2 separate regions of the Homo sapiens genome follow, and region 1 is linked to region 2. Evidence: fine-mapped expression QTL. A gene starts in region 2. The other region holds a variant in brackets. All regions are shown on one strand. Distances are from middle to middle. Region 1 has its middle 15 kb from the start of DCANP1. Region 2 holds the start of TIFAB (TIFA inhibitor).

The links. PIP is the estimated chance that this variant, and not a neighbour inherited with it, causes the effect. A credible set is the group of variants that fine-mapping cannot tell apart.
Region 1: its variant is the best candidate, but not a certain one, in a credible set for the expression of TIFAB in whole blood (TOPMed, PIP 0.81).

The regions. Positions count from the first base shown.
Region 1 is chr5:135,430,546-135,433,468 of GRCh38, forward strand. No RefSeq gene overlaps it. Among named protein-coding and RNA genes, the nearest start is that of DCANP1, 15 kb to the right of the region's middle. The variant C/T (reference allele first, on the strand shown) is at 1,751.
Region 2 is chr5:135,451,198-135,454,120 of GRCh38, forward strand. TIFAB (TIFA inhibitor) reads right to left here and starts at 1,154. Exons shown (of 2, transcript NM_001099221.2): 1 at 1,012-1,154. All of the region lies in intron 1 of LOC124901073 (a long non-coding RNA gene), which reads left to right.

The sequences.
Region 1 (2,923 bases), 21 kb before region 2:
TTCGCACCTACTGAGACGGCTATACAGTGAGTCCTCCCATAATGTCCATTCATCCAATGTTGCTTCGTTATAAGATTGATGAGAAAAAAAAACAATCAATTCCGGCCTGGGGCCACTGTCTGTGTGCAGTTGGCACATTATCCACATACCTGCGTGGGTTTTCTCTGGGCACTCGGGTTTCCTCCCACATCCCAAAGCTATGCACATTAGGCAGAAAAAAAAAAAAGGAAAATAACAGGCATTGGTGAGGATGTGAAGAAACTGGAACCCTCATGCATTGTGGGTAGAAATAGAAAATGTTTCAGCTACTATAGAAAACAGTATGGCAGTTCCTCAAAAAGTGAAACATAGAGTTACTATATGACCCCGCAATTTCACTTCTAGGTATACACACAAACACAAAAAGGAAGGCGGGGACTCAAGTAGATATTTGAACTCTAATGCTCATAGCAGCATTATCCATAATAGCCAAAGGGTGGAAACATCCCAAGTGTCCATAGAAGGATAAATGCATAAACAAAATGTAGCGTGCATATATACAATGAAATATTATTCAGCCATAAAAAAGAATGAAGTTCTGTTACATGATACAACATGGATGAACTTTGCAAACATTATGCTGAGTGAGCTAAGCCAGAGACAAAAGGACACATATGGTATGACTCCATTTAGATGAATATCTAGGCTAGGTAAATTCACAGAGACAGAAAGTAGATTAGAGGTTACAAGGGCTGGGGGAAGGGGAAAACATTATTATTTAATGGGGATAGGGTTTCTGTTTGGGGTGATAATGCTGGAAACCGGCCCAGCGTGGTGGCTCACACCTGTAATCCCAACATTTTGGCAGGCCGAGGCAGGCAGATCACCTGAGGTAAGGAGTTCGAGACCAGCCTGGACAACATGGTGAAACTCTGTCTCTACTAAAAATACAAAAATTAGCCAGGCGTGGTGATGGGCACCTGTAATCCCAGCTACGCGGGAGGGTGAGGCAGGAGAATCACTTGAACCTGGGAGGCAGAAGTTGCAGTGAGCCTAGATCGTGCCACTCCACTCCAGCCTGAGCAACAGAGTGAGACTTCGTCACACACACACACACACACACACACACAAAATGTTGAAAACAGTGAAGATGTTCGTGCAACAATGTGAATTGTAATTACACTGACTTGAATATTTAAAATGGTTAAAATGACATGTTTTATGTTTTATATATGTATATGTGTATATATATGTGTGTATATATGTATGTATATGTGTATATTGTGTGTGTGTGTGTGTGTGTGTGTGTATTGCCTGAAGAGCTTATTGAGATTCTGATTCCTGGCACTTGCTCCCAGATTGGTTGAGTCAGGAAGTCCAGTGTGGGGCCCCAGTATGTACCTTGTTAACAAGCATCCGAAGTGCCTCTGATGTAGGTAATCCATGGCCACTTTAGAAATACAGATAGGGTATGCCAACTGGCTTTCTTGCACAAAACGAGAAAACAAAACAGTTCATGCTGCTTTTCAGAGCTTGTCCTGAAAGCAGAGCACTTTCCACACTGCGAGGAGGAAGGTATGCCACTCCATGCAGGGTCCAGGGGCTCACTGAGCCCCAGTGAGTCTGAGAGTCTGGATGGGCACATTAGTTTATCCAGGCTGAGTCTGATTATGGCAGTCTTGGGGTCAAAGGACTAGCAGTGACTCTAAAATCAACCCGGTGGCCCTGAGATCTGGGGCCCTGCAGTGCCATCTACCCATCTCTAGGGCGG[C/T]CTCAGAGCCCTGTCCTGGTTCCTTCTCCGCCCTGCATTTCTCCAGCCAGCCTCCTCTGCTGGGTCCAGCAAAGGCCAGAGGCAGGAGGTGACTCTGGGTTCTGGTTTTGTTGAAGATGGTCGTGCCTTAATGATGAGAGAGAGATGGTTCTCTCTCCCTAATATTCCCAGTGCCAGGGTCAGGTTTGTACTTCTTCCATCAGTGGTATATGATCTCTCTTCCAGTATTCTACTCCCAGTAATCGGCACAATATATTGTATATTTTGAATAAATTTTTCCTTGCCTGTAAAGTAAGCAAATTACTAGACTATAATAATGTCTAGTAATAATTACTAGACTAAAGTAATGAGACTGTCTTGGGCAATTATGAAATATCTTCTGGGCTCATCTTTGAGAATGTGTGCCAGTGTCTTCTTGCTGCCTGGCAACTCAGGTATTCTTTGAGATTGGTTTGCACTTTCACCCTGAGTCCCTTAGACACATTTTCAAAAACTATTCTAATATGTCCCATCCAGGGAAAAAGACAGAAAAGAGCCTGGCCTAGAAACTCAAATGTAAGTACAGGTCATCTTCACAAGCAAGGGAGGAAAGAGGAAGGGTCACTTTCATCCTACTGATTTTTACTGAACCCCGACCAGGTGCCAGGTCTGGACCAGCCCCCTGGGAAATGGAAGTGAACAAGACACAGACCTTCCCTGGCCTCTACCTGCTGGATACTGGTAGTATCCTCTCCCCAAGCCAGACATTGTGAAATGTCCTCTGGGGAGAGGCAAAATCCACTCCGGTTGAGAACCACTAAGTTAAAGCATGATGTGTCCATGTGGTGGCATAGTATACTCATCAGGATAGTTTTTAGAAGTCATTAAAGATGTGTACAAAAATCTTCACAATATGACACAAAGAAAAAAGTTAGATCTATAATTTTACATATAAGAATAATACTAAAAGTACCAAATATACATACACAGTACATGGAAAGAGGTGGGAAGGAAATATAATAAAACATTATAAGAATTAAGCTGGATGGTAGGATAAATGACATGTTTCCAATTTTCTATTGTAAAAAACATTTTTTCAATAAGGATCAATGTTTTATATTTATTTTATGCATTTTTTTTGTTGTTGCAATTTTTAAAACCAGGCGGGTCTTGAACTTCTGGCCTCAAGCAAGC
Region 2 (2,923 bases):
GAAATCACCCAGAGAGACCACAAATGGGATCATGTCTCAAAGGCTGTGGGACAGCGAGCCTGTTGCAGGTGGCTTGAACTCAATGTCCCTCCAGGTCTTGAACCTGCTGCCCCTCCTGCCTTTTAGATGCAGTAGGTTAATGGCTGAGACCTTTTAGTCTGATAGTGAGGGCACCCTTTCACTATCAGAGGCCTGAGGGCACCCCCTTTCCCCTAAGGCACAGACACACATATGCCTCTACCCACACCCCATCTGGCCATAGTCTGCCGAAAGCCTTTCTTTTTTTTCTTTTTTTTTTTTTTCTGAGATGGAGTCTCACACTGTCACCCAGGCTGGAGTATAGCGGCATGATCTTGGCTCATGGTAGCCTCCGTCTTCCAGGTTCAAGGGATTCTCCTGCCTCAGCCTCCCCAGTAGCTGGGATTACAGGTGCCCGCCACCATGCCCAGCTAATTTTTGTATTTTCAGTAGAGACGGGGTTTCGCCATGTTGGCCAGGCTGGTCTCGAACTCCTGACTTTAGGTGATCCGCCCGCCCCGACCTTCCAAAGTGCTGGGATTACAGGCGTAAGCCACCACGCCCAGCCAGAAAGCCTTTTCTCGAGGTATGCGTTACAGGCTGAGCCCAGGACAGGTGGGCTGGGCAACCCATGCTGTCAGGCCTGGCTGGAAACTCAAGAGTTCACTCCCAGAAACTAATATCACGGCACAGAGACCCTGAAAGAATCCCTCAGGAAGAAAGATTCACAGTTGCTGTGTGGCCTTACTCTCTGCTCCAACCAGAGCTAACAGAAATCTCCCACTAAAGAGGAGCCCATCCACGACAGGCTGTCCCGTGTCTTTTGGATCCCAGGTGTTCTGGGGAAACAGAAACCCAGCCCTACAAATCCAGCCTTTGGGACGGGGCAGGAGGAAGACACTCCAGAATGTGTGTCTCAGGGGAGCCCTCCTCCCAGCCCCACCAGGCCCTCCCTTCTCCCCATGGGTTCAAGCCCCTCTGGCTTCAACTTACCTTATTGCCGGGGCACATCTGGCTCTAGTCCTGCAGCTGTGAGCTCTTGAGAGGGAGTAGGCTGGTTTGGGTAGGGCTGGGAGGGCTCCTATGGCTGCAGTTCAGGAACGTGGCAGAACATACTTCAGTTTTGTTGCATTCTTCCTTTTTCCCTTTAGGAAAGAAAATAGAAGTGTAATTTTTCATTGCAGAAGTGCAATTCCACTGCTGAGAGTTTGAGAAACCCCAGCGTGGGGCCCCTTCTGAGACAGATGGCCTGCCTTCCTGGGTTTCAGTTCTGCCAGCCTCTCCTACCCCACCCCCAGGGACCTTAGGACCTGCACCCAGGGTATCTGCAAAGTTCCTCTCCACCTGCCAGTAGGATGGGGTCAAAGCAGCCCAGGCATGTTAGAAAAGAAGAGCTTTTTGGGACAGATGGCTACGGGACAGGAGAGTCCCCTGAGTGTGGGAGAATGAGGAGAGCGTTCTGGCTGGATAGAGGTTGGCCAAGGAAACTGTAGGCAACATGGCACTTCCCTGAGGGTCTCAGGAGAGGGCAGGGCCTGGGGACGGGGAGGATGGAGAGGGCAGTAAATGGCCACTCATAGAACATGATCTCTCCTGCAGAACAGTGAGAAGGTGGTCTCTCATGCCCACTCCCCATCGCCCGAGCTCTGCCTATTTGCATGCAGTTTGGAAGGGGTGAAGATGGTCGCTTGTCCAGCACTGCGGGCTCTGGCTGCCCTGGAATGTGAAGGTGCTAACCCTTCACGTAGCCCAGCATTTCATAGTCCACCAGTGTGTTCAAGTCACCTGCGTTATCTCCTAGGAGTTTTATAGTTCTATACGTACATTTTAATTTTTCTGACATGTGTAAGGTTTGTGTCTAGATTTTTTTTTTTTTTGGCTTATAGGTGTTCAGTTGTCTCAGCACCATTTTCCGAAATGACCATGTTTTTTTTCCTTCAGTGTTTTCTCTTTACTCCTTTGTCAAAGATTGGTTGACTGTATTCATGTGGGTTTATTTCTGGGCTCTCTACTTTGTATCATTGATCTATTTGTCTATTTTTTCACCAATACCTTACTGTCTTGATTGCTGCAGCTCTGTAGTAAGTCTTGAAGTTGGGTACTGCCAGTCCTTCAATTCTGTTCTTCTCTTTCAATTTTGTCTTGGCTCTTTTGAGTTGTCTGTCTATATAAATGTTAGAATCAGTTTGTTAATAGCCACAAAATAACTCGCTGGGATTTTGACGAGACTTCATCAAATCTATCAATAAAGGAGGGAAGAACTGACATCCTGACAGTATTGAATCTTCCTATTCATGGACATGGGATATCTCTCTATTTGTTCAGTTCTTTGATTTCCTTCATCATAGTTTCATGGGTTTCCTCATATAGATCTTGTATATGTTTTGTTAGATTTATACAGAAATATTTCTTTTTTGAATATTAATGGAAATGGCATTGTGTTTTTTATTTCAAATTCCACTTGTTCATTGCTGGCATATAGGAAAGTAATTGATTTTATGTATTAATCTTGTATCCTGCAATCGTCCGTTAATCACTTACTAGTTCCAGGAGCTTTTTTGTCAATTCCTTTGGATTTTCTACATGGACAATTACGTCATCTGCAAATAAAGACAGTTTTTTTCTTCCTTCCCAATATGTATACCTTTTTTTCCTTTTTAATCTTACTTCATTGGTTAAAACTTTTTGGTTAAACGATGTTGAAAAAGAATAGTGAGAGGAAATGTCCTTGTCTTGCTCCTGATCTTAGTGGGAAAATTTCTGGTTTCTTATCAGTAAGTATGATGTTAACTGCAGGATTTTTGCAAATGTTCTTTTTCAAATTGAGGATGTTTTCATTTATTCCTGGTTTGTTGAAGATATTTTGCTCTAAAGTAACCGCCAACCTAGAATTCCATGCCCAGAT